Linked DNA regions of Homo sapiens: all the other regions are linked to region 2. Evidence: fine-mapped expression QTL. A gene starts in region 2. Each other region holds a variant in brackets. All regions are shown on one strand. Distances are between the middles of the regions.

Region 1 (8,174 bases), 28 kb after region 2:
GAGATCTAGTGGGGTAAGTCCACGTTCCCTGTTCCTAAACTCAAATTCTCCCTGAAAAGACCCAGGGCAGCACTGTTAGGGAGCTGAAGGAGTCCCTCTGTGCCCAGAGGGAATTAGGCCACTCAGGCCTCAGAGAAGGAGGGCGGGTGGTGAGGACAACCTCCCCAAGCCCCCATCAGAGCAGGCCCAATACTTGCAAATTCACTCCTCAGTCCACTAGATTCTGGTCCCATCCTACATCCCCGCCAAGGCACAGGAGGCCCAGATAAAAACAAGCTTTATTTGGCCAAATTAACTCACTTTCCTGGATTACCTCACTTATCGGAAAGTGAAAGTACACCCCACGCTCCTCGCCCTGTCCCTGCCTAAACCTCTTTATCTCTGAAGCCCACTCTTTGAGACCTAAAAATTAGGGTTCAACAGAAACGCTCTAGGACTACAGGAGGGACACGACAGTCCCTATCCTACAGCGCACTAAAAGCCAAACTGAAGGCTGCTTCCTCGGTGGAGAGTGTCTCAGGGTGAGGTGGTGGGACTGTTCGCCGCTTCCCATTTTACAAGCTCCTTGTCCACAGCCGTCTGCGCCAGCCCCTCACAAAACCGGTTCTCGCCTTCTGGTGGGTGCTGGTGTTTACCCCTTTCCTCCCACTATCTGTTCAAACCCAGCCCACCCACCCTCCATTCACCTCCCCTCCTTAAGGCTCCCTGAGCTCTATTTACCCTTTTGTAACTCCATCCCTCCATAAGTACACAACTCTCCTAGCTGGTTTCCTAGAGGGCAGATACAGTGTTTCCAGTTGGCCCTCTGCAGATATCTGTGAACAAGTCTCTCCCATCCCCTACATATAAAGATGTCTGTTCTAGACAAACGGGCCTAAGTCCCAACGTAAAAACATCACAAGATAATTACACCTTATATACATACAGATCTCTCTATAGAGTTATATTTGAAAGTGTCTATAACTCTAGAGAGAGATTGCAGCATGCACATATAGGACTATAATTATTTATGTCTATTTTTATAACTATGTAGTTATAAATAGATATGCCTATATATAGTGATAATAATATAGAAATATCTCCATAGCCATATATGGCTCTAAGTGAATGCTCTAACTACTCTATTTCACAATCAATAAGTATATATCTCCTGATACATAATTCTAACAATATACGTTTTTATCTATATAGCTGTTCAGAGATATAAATCTGTCAGGATATCACATGTACATAAAGCCGGATGGCTGTAAGAGAGTCGTATATTTTCCCATATATAAATCTGCTCCTATAACTACTGTATATGCACAAATACAATGGAAATAATTATATTTCCCTCAAACATAAATCTGTAAATACAACCACAGCACATTTAGGTACGGTTAGACATAGAGCAATATTTCCTAGACATCAGTCTGTCAATAGAGCCACCAGTGCCTCCAAACAGAGAGTTATAGAGGGAGTTATAAATAAACTCTCCAGATGGGAACCGGTCAGTAGAACTAGATGTAAACATGACTCCAAGCTGTTCTTTCTTCTTCTTCTTCTTCTTCTTTGTAAGATATTCCTGAAGCAAGCCCAGTCATATAACAGGGTGCAGAGGTGTCTGGGTACTGGTATTTTTCCCCCCAGGAGGGTCGGATGTCGCTGGACTTTGGGAAACCGAGCAGGAGTAGATAGGGGACAGTGCCCGCTCCCAACGCAGCCCAGAAGTCCCTTCCTTCTGTCTCCTGGTGGCTGAGAGCTCGGGCAAGTGGAGAGGCCTAAGGGAGAAAAATGAAAAAGCAGAGTCTGGCTTGAGTCGTTTGGCCCTTCGGCCTAAAACCCTCTCAACAGGGAAGCCCCGACCAGGCGTCGGAGCGGAGAGAGCCCACGAGGCCCAGAGGCTGGGGGAAAGGGGCTGCAGGCCAGGCTGCGGAGGCCGAGCGGAGTCCCCAGCCGGTGCCTGATCGCCCGGCGCCCCATCGCCCGGGGCCGCTGCCTCGCCGGCGGCCTGGAACACAAAACCTGGGCCCTAGCCCTGCACCCTGCGCTCAGCGCTTCCACCGGTCTTATTTTATTGCTGTTTTGTCCGATTAGGTATCGCAGCGTCCTCCACCCGGTGTTGTTCTCAAATGCGAAGGAACCCAGGGCTTTCTGAATATATGTGTGTGTGTGTGTGTGTGTGTGTGTGTGTGTGCGCGTGCTGGCTTTAAATAAGTGACTCACTGGATAGTGTATTTCTCTTTTCAGACCAAATGGGTCACCGGCTACTGAAAAAGAATCCAGACCTCTGAAAGGGTTTGTGACAAATTTTTTAGAAGTTCTCACGCTCATCTGTTATGATGATTTTCTTTTCTTTTTTCTCTTTTAAAAAAGTTGGCTAATTTGTGTTTCTATATTCCTCTTTAATTTTATTTTTATTGGGGGTACAATTGTTTTTAAAGGAGGGATTTCGTTAGACCCGAAACTGTGGGGTGGCTTCCTCTCTAGCAAACTTACTATCTCTACCCCTGTGATTCCCATCTCCCCCAAGAAAACAAACTAATTAAATGACCAGAAAACTGTACCTGGAGAGAATGAGGTAGATGTTGCCGGATCCGGGACCGCGGTCTTTGCTTGCTTCATGAAAAATCGGCTAGTCTCCAAACTCGCGAAGGAAAATTCAAGGCGCCTCAACTCCTCCTTCTAAATTTTTTAATAAAGAGCCTAGAAAGGGAACTTTCCCTGGGCCTGCCGAAGCCCCAGCCTGGCTCTCCCAACTCCCCAGCGGCCATAAGTGTTTTTCTGCTTCCGTTCGGGCCCCCAGTCTTCCCGTCTTCCCGGGCATCTCTGAGCTCTTGCCGGATCAAGGCTGTGGTCATCGCCTCATTCATCTCTGCCCCTTGGCCTGAGCCTGCACATTTGGCCTCCTTCTTAAAACAGGGGCTCCTAGAGAGTCCCAAAAGCCATTAACCATCCCCATATGTGGGATCCCTTCCCTGATCACACAAAGCAGAAGCCTGAGAAAAAAAGCAATAAAGAGTGGCCTCCTGGCCCTCCTTCCCCTCTTCTGTCCCTTGTCTGGGAAAGGGGTTCCCAACCCCAGCCCCGCCAAGAGCATATTAAGAAGCTTTCTTCCTCCCTTCCTTTCCTATCTCCCCCTCAGATGCTGTGATCCTGACTCCTTCTTCTGTCTCCACCTCAAAATATTTCCTCTTGCATTTTATTGTTATTCTGTTATGGAGGGACTGTTAACTACTGTTTTATTATTATTATTCATTATTTATTGTTATTATGATTGTTGTTAGAGATTTGTTCACCACCGTTCAGGGGACAGCAGCCTGGCCCAGGGGGAAGCCTGCCTCTCTCTCTCTGTCTCTCTCTCTCTCTCTCTCTCTCTCACACACACACACACACACACACACACACCCTAACACAGTGCACACTCACGCATATATGCTCACAAATGCCTGCTGTGTTCAGGCCCCTGCACAGCAATCCGAAGAGGCAGGCATCCTACCCCAGCACCCAAACAACACACTGCCCATGCACACCAGCATTCAGGCAGAACACCACCCCCAGACCAACGCCAAAACCCACACGCACCGAGCTTGCAAGGAAAGGAAAATACGTAAAGAATCCCTTCTCTCCCACAACCTGGAGGGGCGAGTCAGGCCTCTGTCTCTTCCCCCCAGTCGCTTTCGCTTTCTCTTTTTTTTTTCTCCTTGTTTACAGCTTCAGAGAGCTCAAGGCCCATAAATCTTGAGGGGCCTACAGAGCGCAGAGCACATTTGTATGCATCGTTAGGACTCGCTAATACCTAAGCCCATTAAGGAGCGTGTATGCGCGTGGTTTCCGGTGTGTATTAACTTATAGTTAAATTCTGGAGGAAAGGGCATTGTGAATTAACATATACCAAATCCATCATGGGCTTTTGTCATATCAGATTAGTCAGTCATGGGTTTGGGGGAGCAACTTGCCTGGGTCGGGGTGTACCCACCCTTCAAACTTTGTGGAGCAGGCCCGGGGGTCTTGGGAAACACGAAGGCATTCCTATCCAGCCCCAGTCATTCGGATCCCCCAGGCCTAGCGGCTGCACACCTGCGAGATGGCGGAGGGACTGCAGACCCGGGTGCGGGAGACCAGCGCCGGCGAAGACAGGCGGGCGAGGGAGGCCCCTCCAGCGTCCTGCTGGGGTTGAGTTGGGGCGGCTCGTCCCGTGGCCGCTGGGTCGTCTGGTTTCCGCTTTCCGAAAGAAATGAGAGGAGAGGCAAGTGGAGTCGCTGAACTTTAATTAAACCGTAGAGAAGACAGTGGGGGGAGGGGAAAAAAAACGATCGGAGAAGGAGGAGAAGGCGGCCGAGAGATCGAGGAAAGGAAGTCCTGGCGGCTCGGGGGAACTTGGAGATCTCTCCAAGGGGCTGAAAGCTGGAAGTTGTATGAAGGTGTTCCTTTTCCACACCCCAGCTACTC[T/C]GCCCCAGTCGAAGAGGCTAATTCTGGCCCTCTTATAAAAAAAAGAAAGAAAAGGTAAAGAAAAAGAAAATCTAATTATGTGGCATGTTTCAGCCAGGTGTTCCTGGTTCCAATGACTCAGACCCTATTGGAGCCCCGAGGATCTGGATAATTGGGCCTGCATAGACAGAGATGAAGGATGCCATTTCTAAAAGGAGGAAGGGGAAAGGAAAGTCCATCTCTTGGGGTCTTGTAGAAAATGCCAAAGACCAAACGAGCTAAATTATTGTGTCCGTGTAGATCTATTTGCCTATTTACATACAGCAGGCTGTGTGGGTGGGGGGTGAGGGAAGGCAAGGAATAAACGACCAGGATGGAGCGGGCTGGCAGTAGAGAAAATGAGCCCCCCGCCCTTTGCGGGAACAGCCAAGGGGCCTCCTCAGCTCGCAGCTCAGGCGGCCGTGCGGCGGGCCGGTCCGGGGCCGGGGGCCGGGGCCGGGGCCGGGGCCGGGGCCGGGGCCGGGCTGGGGGAGGGGAGGCGGGGGCGGGAGGGGAGGCGGAGGCGGGCCCTCCCCTGGCGCTGTGAACTTTAGCTGGGCCGCCGCCTGTCAGCCCCAGAAAGCGTTAAAGGTGCAGCAGCTCGCGCCAGCCTCCGCAGCCGCCTTTGTACGCGTGATTTATGACTTCAATCTTGGTTCACCGAGAGTTCACACGGCTTTCGCTGCTGTTGAAGGTTAAAAGATGGTCTTCGCTTGACAAGTGGGACTATTGAAAATTCCTTCTTCTTTTTTTTTATTTTATTTTAGAAGCGAAGAGCAGAGGCTCAGGAGAGAAAAAAATTGGGGGGGGGGGGCGGGAGACAGGGGTTGCAGGTGGGCCAAAATGGTAGGTCAGGAAGGTTTGTCTTCCTATATTTGGGATTTTTTGTTGCTAGGATTTGTGTGCGTGTTGGGGAGAGGGTAGAGAATAAGAGGGAGCTAGGCAAGAGATGTAAAGATCTCTCATATTTAGAGGCCAAAGGAGTGGGAAAAAAAAAAAACAACTCGTGCTTCCACCGTTAATTATCTGGGTAACTTGGGTCACACCCCCTAACTGATCCTCCTCTAGAGACCGGAAATGGGCCAGGTAAGGGAGAGAGTTTGGGTAAAGGGTAAGGTTTGTGTGCTTCTCACTGGGTGTACTTGATCATCCACCTTACTTGGGTAACTACTTTTTTTTTTTTTTTTTTTTTTTTTTGGAAATGGGGTCCAGCTCTGTTTCCCAGGCTGGAGTGTTGTGGCACCATCATAGTTCACTGAAGCCTCAAACTCCTGGGCTCAAGTAGTCCTCCCACCTTAGCCTCTTAAGTATGTGAGACTGCAGGCATGTGCCACACCCCCAGGCTGGGTAGCTGCTTTTCAATGTGCTTCTGCACCCACAGATTTGGACAAGGGTATTTTTAGGCAGCAGTCTTTCAACTCTCTTCATCCTGAAGGTTTAGCCTGCCATTTACATTTGATGCACATGAAGAGGCTAATGGGAAGGAAATCTATAGAACTGGAATTGGAAGTCCTTTCGAATCCCAAATCCCCTTGGTCTAAGAGCCAGTCTCTCTTCTTTCTAGCATTTTGAAAAAGGTCGTGCCACAGCAGAGATGGTGGTTAAAGATCTCCTAAAGACCAGAATCTAAGGCCCCTTTGTGATCTAAGGCTCTGAGTACTTGGAGAGACAAAACTCACTCCTTCTTTGTAGATTCAGAGAGACAGAGAGAGAGAGAGAGAGAGAGGGAATGAGGAGATACCTTGAAGCTGAGGGTCTGCTTGGCTCTTCGAGGTTTTTTTAAGATATGTTTTTAAAAATTTTTCTGGAGTGGGAATTTGGGATCGTGTGCACTGGGAAGGGGAACAGCAGAGAGCTGGGTCTGGAGTTGGGTGTGCCTCCCTAGCCCTATTTAGGCCCGATCTCCATGATCGATGCTAGGTAAATGTCTTCTTAAGAAATAGAGCCAGCCCCTCAAATCCAGATCTGGGAACCAAAGGCATGCACGCTAGAAGGGGCACTCCCTGCTTCTCTTTCTACATAGCGTTGGAGAGGTATTTTCCCACTGTGTGAGGACTTAGATAAGAGAAGGAGAAGAGCCAGAAAGATGTCCACATCTCGCCGGGACAGCTAGCACCAGGCCCTCCTACAGGGGACCTCGTATGTAAATAGCAGAATGGGGAGCAGAGAACAGAGAGACCCCAGAAATCCAGAGTCCAGGCTCTGAGGTCACTTTGGCAGGAATGGTCCTCTGGCCTTATGAAGAACAGAGGGGCAATATGGCACTGTTTAGAAGCTCAGGGGGTGGTAGCTGTTAGGAGAAATCAGCCAAGGAAGCTAATGGATCTCTTCCAGGTTCTGGTTGGGAAGCAGAGGAATGAACTTAATGGCCTCTGGAAGTAATGTCTGTACTGAAGTCCCCTTCCTACCCTTTCTGACTGTGTTCCTCCCTGGGAAATAATTCCAGTGGGCTTGTGCTTATCTGCAAGTCTGGGGTAATTATGAATTATTAATTCATCATTAAGACTTGATTGTGACCGTTGCTCTCCAGTGGACCCATTTATCTCCTTCTTTATGAGGCAGAGGGCGGTCTCTGTTAGCCCTTGGCTTCTGTAACAGGCAAACTGAGGCCAGCCCCTCTTGAAGGCAGTCCTTGAACTCTGCCCTAGGTGGGATGGTTGCCTCATTACCAGTCAAGTCATGTTGCACCTCAGAGTATTTGTGCAATACAGCCACCTCCCACAAACTTCAGATTTCAAAGTGCTTTGTAGGCTCCTGGAGAGATAGAGTAGGGGATTGGGAGTGAGACTCCAACAGGGGAAGAAACTTGGCCAAGCTGTGTGTGGAGACAGGAATTAAGGCGAGGTGGGAGGACACCCAGGCACAGTATCTAAGCAATCTGGGATCAGGAATGGGCATTTTGCCTTCCTTACCCTAAGGAGATGCTAGTCTCCCTCAACTCTCTGGGGACCCCTGAACACACATCTGGCCCCTTTTCCTGACCTCTCTTTCCCCCACCAGCCTCTCAATCGAGAGGCACAGGTTTCAAGACACATCATCCCCTCCGATGGTTAGGGGTGGGAAAGTCAGATCTGCCAGTTGTTTCACATCTGTAAGAGGCCTGGAGAGGGAGAAAATTGCTCCTATCCCATGAGGTAATTCCCATCTAAATCCCTGCTATAAGCTCACCTCCCCCAGCACTGAAATAATTCTCTTCATCCTTTTTTCCCCCTCTTCTTCCCTCTGGAACTACAGGCAGGGAGATTGAGGGCAGGAGAGGCAGCTCCCAACAGCTGTACCTAGAGGAAGAGACAGAAGTAGGAAATGAGGGGAGAGTGGCTTAAACCTGTTATTTCCTACAAGTTTTATCTCCATTATTCAAACCCAGGTCAATACCCTGAAACCAGGGCCATGGGAAGCCCTCTCTCCTTGTTTCCCCAACTCTCTCTCTCTCACAGAAAAGGAGCCCTGCGTCCCTCCCTGAGGCCAAGGGGCTGCTCTGAAAACTGCTCTAAGAACACTACCACTTTCTACAGGACACCTGAGGGCCCAGCCCCCATGGATCTCTCAGTGCCTGTCTGGTCCAGAGGGAGCCAGTGGCTCTTGCCAGCACATCACCATTTTGTGCTCCACGAGGGGGTGGTCCATGGAGTCATCTCATCTTTCAGCCCAGACCTCACTCACTCTTTCTCCAAGCCACGCCAACATTCCTTGGTCTCTCCCAAGCCAGGAGGCAGGTAGGAAGC
Region 2 (8,174 bases):
TACCATCTAAAATTCAATTTATATGAGTGAAAGGAAACAGAAATGTTGCAATTTTTAATCCCTAAAACAACAACAACAACAACATTCACACACATAAACCCTGCATTTCAAAGAGTAGGGAAAGGAATGACCCTCATTTTCCTTCCCTTTGCCCTCCAAATCCTGAATTGGTTCACCCATTTATTTTTCTCCCTTGGAAAAATCAGAGAGGGGTACGATTTTAATGCAGCAGAGAATCTATGGAGCCGCTGAGCTCTCTCAGCCGGCAGCTTGTTACTGGGGAGGGGAGGAATATGGGTTATCCAACGGTCAGTATGGTAATCCAGGCACAATAAGGCCTCACACACAATGGACACATATTTTTCTTCAGCGATGTCAGAAGGGAAGCGCTTTGTACTGAAACGTGTTTCCGAAAGAGAAACCAAATCGAGATTTAGAAAGGAGATGGGGTGGAGGGGCAATTGCAGAGAGCATTTGGATGCTGGCAAAAGGTAGTCAGAAAAAATAAAAATAAATAAAACTGGGGCAAAGTGAGGTTGAGGACAGGGCAGAGGTGCAGCCCCTGGGCCAGCAAGGCGGGAGGCAGGAGGGTGAAACACAAAAGAAGACAGGACCAGATACAAGGATTCATCACAGATGAGAGCTGCTTTAGTACCCCCACCCCCTCCCAATTAAGCCATTGCTAAGTGCAAAAGCCCTTCCAACGGATTTTATTTCTGTGCTTGTAATAATATCCAGGTGAAAATGTTTGTGTGTATGTGTGTGGTATTTTACCCATGTGACAGGCGACTTCCTTGCTATTAAGCTATAGGAGCCCAAAGAGAGTTGCTGTTGTTGTTTTGTAAATGATGTAGATGAGTGTGGGCACATTTGGGGGAATCTTGGAGATTTCACTTTCTGGATGTGCATGTTGAATTAGCTGCACGAACCTGGAATGAAAACTCTACATATTTATAGCTGCATAAAGAGGCATTTAATATATTAATAAATATTAATAGTGTGCACGCATATATGTTAACCATAATAACCAAAGACAGACTTGACATTCAGTTGGGGGCATCTGAACCCTCTGTGTCTACTACTTATACTGGCCCAAAGTCAGTCTCCTTGACCCCCCTGCAGAAGCTCAGAAACCTGGCGGGGGTGGGATGTGACAGGCAACATATTGGGGAGGACTCCTTAACAAGTACAGGAGGGTGAAGATTGAAGAAAAGAGGGTTAGCGTCAGGGCACGGATGGTAAAAGGTGAGTGTGAGGGCTGAGAGGATGAGAGTCAGGCTCACAGCTCACCTTTCCAGGTGAGGCAGCCGCATCCAGGTACAGGCCTAGAAGGGAGACTGGGAGTGGGGCCGGGAAGGTTTCCTCCCTCTTCATCAACCCTCTCCACATGGCACCAAAGTTTGCTGAGCTTTGGACTTCCCGGTGGAGCCATCTGGGACTACAGTTCAGACTTAGGTACTAGGATTCAGCACTGGTTTCCCTTTGCCCTCTTCCAGCAATTTATAATGAACCCACCCCCACCACCAATGATTAAGACAACCCCACACAACCCAAACCACTATTAACCAAGCAGTAGCCTTCCTCCGCCCCCTCACTCACAGTCTCAACTTCCTCTCCAACCAAACCAGCCTGTCCTCACATGCAGAGAGTTCCGGACAAGAGTGGGCAAGGGTTCTCAGCCAACTCTGAGAATTTGGGAATCTCCATTAGAGGTGTTCAGCCTCTGGGGAACTCCTGTTCCTTCACCTGGCCTGGTTACAGTGGGGATGGGCACTGTCCTCTTGGAGAGAGAGTATTCAGGGACCACCAAGCACCAGCTCCTTGGGAGCTAAGCCCTGGCCCTGCTGAGCCTGGGGTGGGGCTGGGGGCCTAAGCATTGGAGGAGGGAAGGCAACGAGGGCCCAGGCGGGAATCCGCACCCTTTGGGCACGGCTGTGGGTCCAGCTTCCCTCTCATTCCAGCCCTTTGGGGAAGCCCTAATTTGGAAGTGGGGACCCTCTCCAACATCCCAAAGGTGATGAGAAAAGGATTGGAATCTCTTGCCTTCAGTCTCCCTCTCACAAGGGCTTTATTTTTTTTTTCCCTTTCCCCTCCTCATTCCCTTAATTGCAGATGTTCTAATTAAACCCTCAAATAGTTGTTATGCCGTTTTAAAAGGTACTTATTCAAGTGTCAACCAGGCTGGGCTGGGAGGAGGTAGCGTAGGGCGGCGAATTAAAGGTAGATTGACTAATCACGGCGGCGATCATAATAATAAAATCAGAGGGAAAAAAAATCACATTACGACTTTTCGTGGAAAGGAGGGAGCAGGCAGCCAGCGGCCGCCAGCCCTGCGCCGCCGCCGACACAAAGAGTGCGGGCGATTCCGCGAGACTGATTTATGACGTTTTACAGCCCTATAAAAGCTGTAGCGACGAGGCAAGCGCTCCTACCACCGCTGGCAGATTTAGTCTAATAAATAAAACATAAACAGTTAACTTTATGTGTCACTTTTATTGTTATCAAGTAAAATATAGCTGAGCCCTGGCAAGCTATGATTTTAAACTATAATTGTTATCAAGTACAACAAGGGGACCCGGCTCCCTCCCTGGGCTCTCCCCTCCGCTACCCCCCGCAACTCTGAGTTATGGGCGATCAGTTAATTGGAATCGGTGGCATGACAGGACCACCCCTAGCTGGGGGGGGGGGGTGGTGGTTAGGAAAGCAGCTTTTCCTGGCCCCCTCCCTCCTCTACGGCCCTGTCACCCCCCTCCATCAGAGTATTACTGTGAGTGGGTGGCAGAGAGAGAGCAGGGGGTGTGAATGGGCTGGAGACCCCAAAGGCTGGCCGTGCCTCCCCAACTTGGTGAGCTTAGCCTTCCGTTTTTGGAAAGCAGCCTGGAGCTGGCCTTTAGGAATTCGTGTTTACATGTAAACACACGTGTTACATGGATACAGCTCCTAGCCAGAAGCAAGCAGGCTCTACCCACACAGGCCTCCCTCTTAGCTAGGTCTGCCCTCTGTGGGGACAGAGAAAGAACTCTCAGGATCTTGGCTGGGCACCATCACAGGGCACTGACTCCTGGCAGAAAGCTCTCCTCCTTGCCCCAGCTCCTTGGAGATAATTGTCAGAAAATAGCAGGCCGGGCTGAATGGGGAGTGGAAACAGAAGCCAGCAGTAGAAGAGATCCTCTGCTCTGGGGCTGGGGCAGGGAGGGTCAGTGGGTAGCAGGGGAAGGCGAGACTTCTGAACTCTGCTTTTGCCAACCACTTCCTGTCTCTCTTCAGCGGGGGCTCAACCCCCAGACCTCCAGAAATGACGTCAGAATCATTTGCATCCCGCTGCCTCTACCTGCCTGGTCCAGCTGGGACCCTGCCTCGCCGGCCGCATGGCCAGAGGGTTGGGTGAGTGTGTATGGGGAAGAGGGGCTGGACTCTGGTATCCTTGGATGGGGGGCACTCCAGGCTCTCCAGCCTCCTCGGCTCAGCCTGGGCCCCTCCCCATCCAACATCCACTCCAGTCCTCATTCAACTTCCTCTTCCTGCGAAAGAGGGGCGCTGCCCCGTGACCTACACAGACTGAGACACGATCGCCATGAATGGAGACCTCTGGAAAAGCTCAGGAGCCGAGGCCCACGGGGCCCAGCAGAGGCCTGAGGGGAGACCCTGGGCGGGGGCTGAATCACTGCCTCCCGACAGTCCCCCAATGCCCGGGCTTTGGAGGGGAGCCGGGAGCTTCCCATCTCCTTTTGCAGGGGAGGGTTGTCAGTCTGGCGGGATGTGCACTGGGGGCACTCCAACCTCTGCTAGCTAACCCCACATCACCACCCACCCCCGCCTCCCAGCACCACCACCACCACACACACAAAAAAATTGGATACATTTTGAATAAAGCGATTCGGTTCCTTATCCGGGGACTGGGTTGCTCCGTGTGATTGGCCGGAGGAGTCACATGGTGAAAGTAACTTTACAGGGTCGCTAGCTAGTAGGAGGGCTTTATGGAGCAGAAAAACGACAAAGCGAGAAAAATTATTTTCCACTCCAGAAATTAATGATCATGAGCTCGTATTTGATGGACTCTAACTACATCGATCCGAAATTTCCTCCATGCGAAGAATATTCGCAAAATAGCTACATCCCTGAACACAGTCCGGAATATTACGGCCGGACCAGGGAATCGGGATTCCAGCATCACCACCAGGAGCTGTACCCACCACCGCCTCCGCGCCCTAGCTACCCTGAGCGCCAGTATAGCTGCACCAGTCTCCAGGGGCCCGGCAATTCGCGAGGCCACGGGCCGGCCCAGGCGGGCCACCACCACCCCGAGAAATCACAGTCGCTCTGCGAGCCGGCGCCTCTCTCAGGCGCCTCCGCCTCCCCGTCCCCAGCCCCGCCAGCCTGCAGCCAGCCAGCCCCCGACCATCCCTCCAGCGCCGCCAGCAAGCAACCCATAGTCTACCCATGGATGAAAAAAATTCACGTTAGCACGGGTAGGCAACTTTGCTTTTTGCTCCCCCCCTCCCTCCCTTCTTCCCTAGCGCTCCCCACCCTCCTCGGCCCCCTCTGGCCCCCGTCCTCCTTTCTCTCCTTCCCCCTCTCTCTCCAGGAGCGACTCTGGGTTAGCACAATTGAACTGGATTTACGAGCGAGAATGGGTAATTACATCCCCCATAAATTTTATGGCTTAGCTACTCTGGGCAGTCCGAGCCATGTGCTACGATCTGTTATGTATGTGTGAAAACTATGCTCGCTTTCTAAGGGCGCATAAATAATTCAGTGTCGTTACAATGAGGATTCCCCTCTTATTACACTACAAAGTCTTCAGCTTCCTTCAACTTCTTTATAACCCATTTAAGCTTGATGACTTTATTTCCACCACTCCCTCCTCCTGTTTCTCAGAGCTGAGGATGGGGTGAGGGTGGGGGGCGGGGAGCCTGCTGCCTCTGAACCCCACTATTTGCTTTTCCCCTCCCCCCAGTGAACCCCAATTATAACGGAGGGGAACCCAAGCGCTCGAGGACAGCCTATACCCGGCAGCAAGTCCTGGAATTAGAGAAAGAGTTTCATTACAACCGCTACCTGACCCGAAGGAGAAGGATCGAGATCGCCCACTCGCTGTGCCTCTCTGAGAGGCAGATCAAAATCTGGTTCCAAAACCGTCGCATGAAATGGAAGAAGGACCACCGACTCCCCAACACCAAAGTCAGGTCAGCACCCCCGGCCGGCGCTGCGCCCAGCACCCTTTCGGCAGCTACCCCGGGTACTTCTGAAGACCACTCCCAGAGCGCCACGCCGCCGGAGCAGCAACGGGCAGAGGACATTACCAGGTTATAAAACATAACTCACACCCCTGCCCCCACCCCATGCCCCCACCCTCCCCTCACACACAAATTGACTCTTATTTATAGAATTTAATATATATATATATATATATATATATAGGTTCTTTTCTCTCTTCCTCTCACCTTGTCCCTTGTCAGTTCCAAACAGACAAAACAGATAAACAAACAAGCCCCCTGCCCTCCTCTCCCTCCCACTGTTAAGGACCCTTTTAAGCATGTGATGTTGTCTTAGCATGGTACCTGCTGGGTGTTTTTTTTTAAAAGGCCATTTTGGGGGGTTATTTATTTTTTAAGAAAAAAAGCTGCAAAAATTATATATTGCAAGGTGTGATGGTCTGGCTTGGGTGAATTTCAGGGGAAATGAGGAAAAGAAAAAAGGAAAGAAATTTTAAAGCCAATTCTCATCCTTCTCCTCCTCCTCCTTCCCCCCCTCTTTCCTTAGGCCTTTTGCATTGAAAATGCACCAGGGGAGGTTAGTGAGGGGGAAGTCATTTTAAGGAGAACAAAGCTATGAAGTTCTTTTGTATTATTGTTGGGGGGGGGTGTGGGAGGAGAGGGGGCGAAGACAGCAGACAAAGCTAAATGCATCTGGAGAGCCTCTCAGAGCTGTTCAGTTTGAGGAGCCAAAAGAAAATCAAAATGAACTTTCAGTTCAGAGAGGCAGTCTATAGGTAGAATCTCTCCCCACCCCTATCGTGGTTATTGTGTTTTTGGACTGAATTTACTTGATTATTGTAAAACTTGCAATAAAGAATTTTAGTGTCGATGTGAAATGCCCCGTGATCAATAATAAACCAGTGGATGTGAATTAGTTTTACGTCAATGTCTGATGGTTTCTTTTTATTCCCCTCCCTCTCTGGCCTGGTAACATCCCATCTTCTCTATAGTTGCCTAAGTTTACTTTAAACAAACACACAAATCTTAGCTCTCCATTAGTCTTCCAATGTCCTTAGAAGAACAAGCAAGGGGGTTGGGGTATGGGATCTTCAGAAGAGGGGATGTGGAAGATTAAGGCTGATTTCTCCAGTCCCCTTCCTTCCCCCTGAGTCTGCAGAGAGACCAGACTCCTCTGGGGGCACTTCAGTGGAGCTGAGGGTGGGGAGTGTCTCACTTTTCTATAGTTAGGTACAGTTTCTTCTTTTTGTCTTTTCTCTCTCTTCCCTTCTCCCTCCTCTGTGCTGAGTAGGCCTGCCTACTTTGTAGACAAGGGGGCAAGTTTAGGGAGTGGGAAGGAGAATAGTTTTCTTTCATCTTTTAGGGCTCTTTTGGGATGAGGGATTAAGGAAGACATCCCCTCAACATTTGAGTTCTTAAAAGAAGGAAGGTTTTGAGCTGGTGACTCTGAAGCAGCAAAGTCACCTGTCAGGATGCCTTCTCTGTTTGTTTAGGCTTGGAAAAAAGACTGGCCAGAGGCCTGGGAGGTACCCTTGTTATGGATAGGCCTCAAAGGCTGATGCCTGGAGATAATAAAAGACTTTTACCTTTTTATTCTCTAACTTTTATTATGGACCTGCCAGGTGTTGCGAAGAGACTTAGGGAGAGTCAAGGACCACCCTCTCTTCCTATAACCTCCCAGGTCCTGGCAGCGTATGGGGATAGCCTGAACAAGTTTCTCTGGCTGTAAAGAAATAAATTAATTAAATAAATTTGTTTCCTTGGGGCTAAAAAAGAAACAAAAAATCTTGCCTGGATTACCTGAATACATTCAAGCCAAAGGCTCCCAAATAATTCTGGTCCTGAGATCCAGGCCCTAGCAAGGCCTGCTTAATTTTTTGCTTGTTTGTTAGGAGAAGGTGGGAGGAGGGCTGTTGGTGACCTTCTTCTCGGACGATTTATCCATATTTCAGGAAGAAAGGCAATTAGAAGTAGAAGACAGAGGGAGAAGAGATCTAGGGTATGCAGGGAAGCCAGGGATACCCCTTCCCCCTATCCCCAAATTCTGGAGTGAAAGGCAACAGCAGGACTAAGTTGTACAAATCACATTGGTGTGCTTTGAATTTATTTCCTTTTGAACCACTTGCTGGTTGTTACTTGGTGTGTGTGTGTGTGTGTGTGTGTATGCATGCCCTCACACGTGTGTGTGTTGGGGGGAGTCTCTTAGTCCTTTAGGTCTACTTTTCCTCCCTCAGTGGTACCCTGGAGACAACAAAACATGCTGCCTACAGTATGAGGAGGCAGGCCAACAATTATCTGGAGTTTTTTATGTAATCAAGTGAATTAGGGGCCAAATCTGACTGTAGCCCCTATCGTCTTGAGGCGATTGCCCTTGGAACAGAAAAAGGGGGTTCTAGCTGTGCTTAGGAAAAGGGAAGGAAGGTCTAAGGGCACCAGGGTGTCTTTTCAAGCCTGTAAAGGAGCTAAGATGGAAAGCAGGGAAGGGGTAAATTGAGATCCATGGTTCTTTCCTAAGTTTGCTCGCGTGGCTTTCAGGGAGTTTATCCCTCTCCTCCTGAAAGTGGAAGAGATGAGAGTGAGGAGGGGGAAAATTACTACATTTTATTTCCTAAGTTTCTCCCTGAAATTGCAGAAGGGACACTCTAGTTCAGGAAAAGCAGCATAAAAGGGTCAGAACACTTATTTTATTTCCCCTTCTTTATGTCTTCTGTTTCTTCTCCTTCCTCTTCCCTCACATACATGGTCATTCTGCATGTGTCTCCTTCTGTTCTTTCTGGTCTGAAAAGGGGAAACATCAGAAATCCATAATTCTTGACAAATGAACCCAAACTAAAATCCCTTACATTTGAGTTTGAAGATTTTGGCCTCTGGCCTTCCCTCCAGTGGGCTCCATTTTCTCCCCTTTCCCCAAAGCTCTCCTTTGCCTTGGACTTGGCAACCCAGAATGGCATGGCAGGG
Region 3 (8,174 bases), 36 kb before region 2:
GGGCGTCTTTATTGGTATCTTCATTCCCCAAAATGAAGAATTGAAGGCTCAGGGACCCAGGGGGTAGAAGGGTCTCTCACTTCTCTCTGGAGAGTCCTGGACTTAAAAATTCTGTTTATGCCAATAAGATTCTGGTCAAATAATCCCAAATTCCAGAGATACAAGTCTTCTGACTCAGTCAGGAGAGGGGAAAAGGGAGGGGAGGGATCTTCTGGTCTTAAAAACCAGACCCCCGAAGGCTGAAATATTTTTGAGGCCAGATTTTCTTTCTTTCTTTTTCTCTTCTCTTCTCTTCTCTTCTCTTCTCTTCTCTTCTCTTCTCTTCTCTTCTCTTCTTTCTCTCTCTCTCTCTCTCTCTCTCTCTCTCTCTCTCTCTCTCTCTCTCTCTGTCCTCCCCACCCCTCATCTGTCTAGCTCCTGGTCAATGATTTTCCCAGACCTAGGCCCAGGCCAACTCTTGTTTTGTGGAATTTCACCCAGGTCCCAGTCACTGGTCCCCACGCAAACCGGGCCTGAAAATCGGGCCTGAGTAGAGAATTGAGTCGGGCTTCCTTCACAGGGGGACTCCTGCAGTCCGAGAAAGGCTGTGAATTGGAAGCACAGGCTGCAGGCAGCTGGGGCAGCTTTGAGCAGGAGCTCCGGGAAATCTTCTCTAACCTGGGGTCCCTGCTGTGAGCAGCGGCACCAGCCAGGTAACCTGTTCTCAGTGGGAGACACCGGCTACCCACCAGGGAAGCCAGAAAAGAGGCCATTTCGCTCAGACCTCAGGCCTTCCCACAGGCGTGTCCTCCATACTCCGAGGGATGGCTGAGGTCCCGTTTCGTTTTTAAACGTGGAATTATGATTGCTATTAATAAAAATATCTGGCCCAGTAGCCTAGCGGAATGAACCCAGCATTAAATGGCTCCGAAGGGCCTCGCCGCCTTTTCCCCACACCAAATGTGCCATTTATCCCTTGTCCTGTTCAGCAATGTCCGTGGCCCCAAGCCCGGCGCGTCGGAGGGCGGGGTGCGTCTGGCGCCCGGCTTTACTCGAGATGCCAGGCATGGAGAGGGCTAAGCCGAGGGAGCCCCAGCCACCCCCTCATGCAGTACCCGCTCCCCCACCCCTCCTGCCCACCGCCTCTGTTTTCTCGTTTGGAAAGAAATGGAGGTAAAAACCCGTTTTATGGGGGAACGTAATTGTGAGCGGGATGCGCTCTCTTTAGAATCGCGTCCTCCCAAATGCTCCCGCCGTCCCATTACCGGAATGGGGACCATTCGGCTGCTGCAGATAGGACTTTCTCTCCCATTCTTTACTTTTTTATTAGCCAATCAAAGTGGCTTCCGAAAGCCATTTGTGATTTGTGAAAAATAGTATCTTTCAAAATGCTGAGTTGAAGCATCTCGCTCATTGCTCCTTGAATTTATTATTCTAATCTCAACCGTAGAGCTGGAATAATGCAGCTATTAAGTTGGGGGGCAAATTCGTTTCTCTGGATTAAATTTTTTTTCCTCCCCACTCCCTCATTGCATCAGCCAAGGAAGGTGCGGACCTGCAAGAGATCTGGGGGTGGGTGAGAGAGGTAGTGAGCGTCCTGAAGGGCTCCTTGAGGGACCCTTGGATAGGCGAGTGGTTTGGTCTCCCCAGTCTTATCTTCCCCAGATAAGATGCCCTAATGACTGCCTGCTGGCTGGGAAAGTTACCCCGCCCAATTAGGGAGAATTCAGGACAGGTTGTGCCACAGTCTAGAAGTAAAATTTCCGGTGAGCTGCCCGCAGCGCCGTCCCATTCTCCCCGCTGCCCATTGTGAAAAGCTGGGCCAGCGCTTCCTTGTCGTAATTTTTAACTACCTGTTATAAAATTTATGGGTGGGTTTGTGAAAAGAAACGAGGTCCCTGCATCCGGCCTAGGGAACTGCTTTTCTTACTATGGAGGAAGTCTGGGGAAGGCATGAGGTATCCCCTCTTGGTCAGGGTTGAGGCACCCAACCATTGAGATTCCCATGCCAGCTTGATGCGGGACCAAGTGGAGAGATGCCGGCCTTCAAATCTCGAGCCCGTGGGGAGAGTGACCTGCCTGCAACCCCTCCCCCGGCAAATAGTCTCTATGGGGGAATTTATTCTGGACTCACCTTCAAAATTAGGGGTCTGGAAAAACAGGCTGCTCGAAATTTTAGCACAGAAGGTGGAATTCAGGGCAGTAAAAGGTTATTTTTTCAGGCCTCGGTAGTACATCCCAGCTGCCCAGACATTGAATCAGGAAATTTTTCTGAGAAAGGCAGGTGGGTATGGGCAATCTGACACGATCCAAAAGGCTTACTGCCTTGCACCCCTCCCCGCAAAAAGGAAGTAGAGACCAAGATCTTGGGCTTTAATTTTATTTTTAATTGTAAAAAGATTTCAAATAAGCCACCATTTGAACTGGGAAGGGAAACTAGGGATGGTCTTGGGGGAAAATGTCATTCTCTCTAAGAAAGGGACCCCGGGGATGTGGGTCGTTTTGAGGGTCCTAGAAGTTGACCCCAATTCTCACCTCTCCTGCTGCACTGCAGGATTGCCCAGGGTAGGTCTAGTCCCCTAGGTTCTTCAGACCACTCCAGGTCAGGTTTGGTTGGGTGGCTGCCAGTGGTCTTCCACTACTGTTCCTGTCTAGGGTGGAGTAGGAGCTTTCAGGGGTACGGCATAGAGGGGATGTTGTTCTCTTACTAAAAAAAAAAAAAAAAAAAAAAGGTAGGGGTAGGGAGGCACCCTTTCAATCCCTGCAATTCACCAGCCATCACTGCCTCAAGGCCACAAATCTTTGCAAAGCTTTGAATTCCGCCTGATCCAACCTTAATGCCCCCATTTATTAAGGACAATATTTAAAACTCGGCAAGCCAGGAGAGGCAACCGACCCTCAGTGCTTGAAGCTTTCTTTCGCCTGGGCGTCCGCCCTCAGCTCTTTCTGCGCTCGCCTGCAGCAGCCTGGCCCGTGGGGAGTGGGCGGTGGGTGGGGGTAGGGGTGGGGTGGGGGTCCGGGGATGCTCCCTCTATGAGAGAATTGGGTAAACATGGCGACCGCGGCGCCCATTTGCACACGCTACACAAATGCATCGCATTCCCGGTTGTTTGCAGAAAATTTACAGCTGAGTAATAAAAGTTTACGATCGACTCACAAGTTGGATTGGCCACAAGAAGTCATGTGGATTCCATCCATGAACGTGAACTTTTTATTGTGGTTTGTCCGTTCCGAGCGCTCCGCAGAACAGTCCTCCCTGTAAGAGCCTAACCATTGCCAGGGAAACCTGCCCTGGGCGCTCCCTTCATTAGCAGTATTTTTTTTAAATTAATCTGATTAATAATTATTTTTCCCCCATTTAATTTTTTTTCCTCCCAGGTGGAGTTGCCGAAGCTGGGGGCAGCTGGGGAGGGTGGGGATGGGAGGGGAGAGACAGAAGTTGAGGGCATCTCTCTCTTCCTTCCCGACCCTCTGGCCCCCAAGGGGCAGGAGGAATGCAGGAGCAGGAGTTGAGCTTGGGAGCTGCAGATGCCTCCGCCCCTCCTCTCTCCCAGGCTCTTCCTCCTGCCCCCTTCTTGCAACTCTCCTTAATTTTGTTTGGCTTTTGGATGATTATAATTATTTTTATTTTTGAATTTATATAAAGTATATGTGTGTGTGTGTGGAGCTGAGACAGGCTCGGCAGCGGCACAGAATGAGGGAAGACGAGAAAGAGAGTGGGAGAGAGAGAGGCAGAGAGGGAGAGAGGGAGAGTGACAGCAGCGCTCGGTAAGTGTTTCCTTATTGGTTCAAATATGTAACTAATGGTCC[G/GTAGCTGGA]TGGCGGTTTCAAGAATAGGACAGCAGCGGCTTCTCTTGGTTAGGGAGAAGAGGGGGCTGGCGAGAGGGTGGGCGCGTAGTTAATTATGGGGAGGAAAATTGGCGGGGGGAGAGAAACGGGGTTAAACTGGAATACCGGTAACTGGTAGTGGGGCGATTGTGTTGTCCTGATGTCACTGTGTGCCAAGTTGGGGGTGGGGAGGCAAGGGAACAGCACCTGTGGGGCTCAAGCCGGCGGTCTAGGGCGCCAGCTCTCTGCTGCCCACTGTGTCAGTACCTGCTTATTATAGATCTTCGGTCTCTTGGCTAATGGAACTGGGTCGGAGCGGAACTGGAAGCTCAAGCTCCAGGCAGGAGAGAGAACTTAGAGGCTGTGCCCATTGCCCCCTAAGCAAAGTTAGCCCCCCAACCCCCAAACAAACTTTCCAGCTTCCCCTCCCTGTCTGGCAGCCCCCTCCCTCCCAGAGAGCGCGACTGCTAGAGCTCACACATGCGCAGTGTGGGCCCAGGGCCGGGCCGCCGAGCAGGAAGCCGGCGCAGCTAGGCGGCCGGCGGGGCCTGTTAATTGGCAATTAGGGGGGAGGCTGGTGGCTGGTGCGCGTCAGCCGAGAGGAGAGCGTCTGCCCACCCCCTGCTCCCGCCCCCACTCGGGCGGATGGAAGGGTGGGAGGTGCCCTGCGTTGGGTGGAGGGTGGAGGTTGTAGGGTGGGGGTGGGGGATGCTGTACTCAAAAGCCATCTTGTGCTCAGAGAAAAGAGGCCTACCGGCTTTCCCTTCCGGGGTCCGGCGCCCCTCACCCCCAGCCGCGGCCATCCCAGCCGGGATGCCCACTGGACCGGGATGCCCGCTCGCCACGCATGGCTGCTCTGGGCTAGGACCTGCCTCGCCTCGGGGGGAGGTGGAAATGGGGAAGGCCCTAGGCTGGGCGGGGACAGGCCCAGTCCTCCTGGTAGAGTCTCCTAGGTGCTGTGGAGGCAGTGAGGATTCCGGGGGCTGCTGGCTTATGGGGTAGAGGCGTCAGCCTGGGGCGGCGGGAGGGTCCTGGGCACTCGGGATCTCTCTAATAATTGGTGCTAATGGCCTGTTGTATAGTCTTAACCCGACGCATATGGTTTCATAACACAGTGGCTTAATTTCTTCCAAATGTACGTGGCCCTGAATGTGTTGCAGTTTGATATATGACCCCGCCCTGCTCCCCGGCCTGGGTCCGAGGCTCCGAGGCGGCCCCATAAGTGTGAATTTCTGTTTATAAACGGCGACGCACACGCAAACGCCTACACACCCAGGCAGACACACCCGGAGGCGTGGGGGAACATATTCCAGACGAGGTCCGAGAGAACCTGGGGGCCAGACTTACCTTAATCTAAGCCAAGACACCCCCTCTACCCCCACCCTCTCCCAGAGGCGCGACTGGGATTCTGCGCCAAGTCCCAGTGGGGGAGGGGATCGCTCCACGATTTCCTGTTTAAACCCTGACCCGTCGCCTGTGGGGGGGCGGGGATGGGGGAAGAAACCTGTTTTTATCAAATTTTTAAAAATACAGTTTGCATTCAGATCAAACCGTTTGGGCCAGAGCTGACGGTGAATTTTATCTCCCCTCCCCCCACAACCCCCTTCCCTTCCTTTTCTGCCCCCGCTAAATTCCCCTTTCGCAGCCATCATAAAGGCCTCTGAGGTATTCTCCCGCGGGAAGAAATGGCATTTTCTCTCCCCCTCCCCCACCCCCCCACCCCCAGTAGGACTTGTGTGTCGGCAGAGGCGTCTGACGAGGGGCTAATTTCGCTTTCCTTGTTTACGATCGAGAAAAGCGCTTGGCTCTCCCCAAATGGGCCCAGCCCGCCGCCTGCTCAGGCTGCCGCGCGCTCTCCCGCCGCTCAGGCACGGCCCAGTGGCTGATGCCCCGCGGATCCAGCCTGCGGCAGGCCGGAACCCGGAGTCTGTGGGACCTGAAAAGGGCAAAGGGAGTGCGGTGGGACACAAGAGGGGCCCGAGAGGCCCGAAAAAGGGAGCCTTTCTCCTGGAGTAATGTGGGAATCGCCGACCGGTGAGGCCTCTATTTCTCTCTTTCGCCTGCATTTTGTCCGCCCCCGCCCCTGTGGATGGCCGCTGATGGGGGGGAACACAAGTGTCCTTTGTCCGTCCCCGAAAGAAAACCTTTTCCAGAGAAGGCCATTCAGGCCAGTGGAGATTCACCTAGAATATTAGAAGGGCCCCCTCCCACCCGAGGGGCGGGCCTGGGCGAGGCTGAGGTATTTCTCTTAATCCTAGAACGACCTCACTGAGTGTACCCACAGCGAGATTTGGAGGTGCTAGAGTTCGAGGTTGGCCGCTTAACAGCACCATCCTGAGGTGTCTTTATATAATATTTTAATTGATTTTCTGTCCCTTCCTGGCTACAGCCCTGCAGCTCCCCCACCCCCATCCTATGCCCTTCACCCCTAGACCCATCCTTACAAGACAGAGGCAAGCAGAGAAGGCATAGCAGCAGCGACCGGCGCTCTGTTTTCATTTTCCACTCTGGCCAGGGGATAAACTGGACCCCAGTGGACTCCAACACCAACTCTCTGCTTCCCAGTTACTTTCGATTTTCTTTCCCTTCTCCTTCTTTCTCTCCCTCTCTGGCATTCAAACAGAAGCACAAGAGGACCCACCAGTGGCAACTCTAAGCCTCCTTGCAGGCCACATTCCCTGCTGACGTGGTCCTTCCTGCAGGAGAGCCCTTCTGTGATTATCTAATAATAGCCAGGGTGGCTGAGAATAGAATCTGGCTCAAGGACTCTGCACACCCGGGGCAGAGACACTGAATCTGTGGGTCAGGGCCTGGCAACATTCCTTGGAGCCTCCCCCTCTGAGCCCACTCTTTGGGCACCCTTAGGCTTGCCTGCCCCCCTTATAAGGGGCTTTGTCAGCCCTGCCATCCGCTGTATTTCATGTGCTGGTTCCTAGCTAAGGAGAATTGGGCAGAGCAAACCCTTTCTCACCCTGGTCTGACAGTTGTGATCCCGACAGAATGCGACCTTGTTTGGAGAAGGCGACCTTGTTGGGTTGGCTGTGTTCTGAAACCAGGCTTGGGAGTGTTATATATTTATTATATACAGGCTTAAATATACAGACTCAGGCTTATGCATGAATATATACAGACTCATATTTCCTTGGTGGTTAATTGTATATTACCATGCCTATATTCGCTCAAACACCATTTTATGTTCATGCAAAATTTTGTTAGTCCTCACTAGATGAGAGTGGGCTCATGGAGGCACCGGGTGCACTGAGCAGGCCCTCTGTGCATGCTCTGCTGGAAATATGTGCTCACTGGAATCGGAGTATGCGGGTTCCAGTAACCAATGGATGCCATAAAGGCTTTCTCAGACCTTATTGCTTTTGTTGCCCAAGCAGCTGGACTGGGGAAATACTAAATCCCTTCTGCTTTCTCTCCACACCTCCTGGCAAACTCTCCCAACTTAGAAATTATTTTACAAGGGAGACCAGTTGTCTTGAAATTGAGTTCTGCGGGATTCTTTTCACGGGCATGGTGGGGCTGCAAGCAGTTCGGAGTAGTCAGGGCCCTGGCGCTGGAAGCCTCACTGGAGCGATGAAGGGATCAGAGTGGTTAATAAGGTGGCCTCTGGACAGTGATCTGGGGCAGCTGCTGGCCAGGGTGCTTGGAGAAGCTTGTGGAAAAGGCAAGCCAAAAGGGGTAGGGATGCAGTGAATATCTGTTTCTCCCCCTGCTTGCCCCAGCCGGCCGCTCACCCCGCCCCAGCCCGATTTGCCTGCATCCGTGGCGGCAGATTGGGAGTTCTCTAAGGTCCCCCAAATACCCAGATCTGGTTACTGGATGAACTGCGTTTTAATCCTCGTCGCTATCTGAGCCAGGACAAGACCTGGTCAGGGAGACGGCTGGTCCGGGCAGCACGGGAGAGGACGCTGGACCCGCTGCCTGTGGCCTGGAGCACTGAGTATGGGCTACCAAGGCTGAGAATTGATGGGCCTCCTTTCCCAGCCTTTTTCCCTTCCAGAGACACAAAAAGACAGAGCAGAGGGGAAATATCAATGTCAGTGGAAAACCCCATAAAAGAAAGCAGGGACCAGAGCGGGGCTGGAGGGGTTTTCCGCTACTCTCTCTAGGTGATCGGGTTCCTCCCAAGACTCTTGTCCAGACAGGCTGCACCAAGAGGTGTGCAGCTTTCTTCCACCTTCCTCCCGCCCTTCAAGGAGGGCAGCCTTAGGCTTTCTGGGCCTTGGTCACCCCAGGCACTGGGGTGACATTACTCCAGGATTGTGCCCCTCGCCCAGCCCACGGCCTCTGCCACGGCGCCGCAGCCGCTCCTGTTTATTGTGTCTGTGAGTTGTTTACTTGTTTTGTCTGCTGCCACCCTGCGTCA

The links. PIP is the estimated chance that this variant, and not a neighbour inherited with it, causes the effect.
Region 1: its variant is fine-mapped to the expression of HOXC4 in whole blood (TOPMed, PIP above 0.99).
Region 3: its variant is fine-mapped to the expression of HOXC4 in unexposed skin (GTEx, PIP 0.99). The same link has a PIP of 0.9 or more in subcutaneous fat and tibial nerve.

What each region holds. Positions count from the first base shown.
Region 1 is chr12:54,077,681-54,085,854 of GRCh38, forward strand. All of the region lies in intron 1 of FLJ12825 (a long non-coding RNA gene), which reads left to right. LOC100240735 (a long non-coding RNA gene) reads right to left here and starts at 4,143. Exons shown (of 3, transcript NR_026658.1): 1 at 3,959-4,143; 2 at 2,547-2,664; 3 at 1,159-1,760. RefSeq lists a silencer at 1,865-2,159 and an enhancer at 3,457-3,676. The variant T/C (reference allele first, on the strand shown) is at 4,432.
Region 2 is chr12:54,049,893-54,058,066 of GRCh38, forward strand. It overlaps HOXC4 (homeobox C4), which reads left to right and starts at 3,943. Exons shown (of 2, transcript NM_153633.3): 1 at 3,943-4,469; 2 at 4,958-6,138. The coding sequence starts at 4,031. The coding sequence ends at 5,313. RefSeq lists enhancers at 1,739-2,720, 2,721-3,702, 2,998-3,157, 7,759-8,174 and a cis regulatory region at 3,734-4,234.
Region 3 is chr12:54,013,668-54,021,841 of GRCh38, forward strand. LOC124902939 (a long non-coding RNA gene) reads right to left here and starts at 4,080. Exons shown (of 2, transcript XR_007063323.1): 1 at 3,137-4,080; 2 at 2,346-2,686. It also overlaps a transcript of HOXC4 not described here, a transcript of HOXC5 not described here and a transcript of HOXC6 not described here. RefSeq lists silencers at 4,236-4,405, 4,476-4,745 and enhancers at 4,786-4,855, 4,787-7,994, 8,062-8,174. The variant G/GTAGCTGGA (reference allele first, on the strand shown) is at 3,790.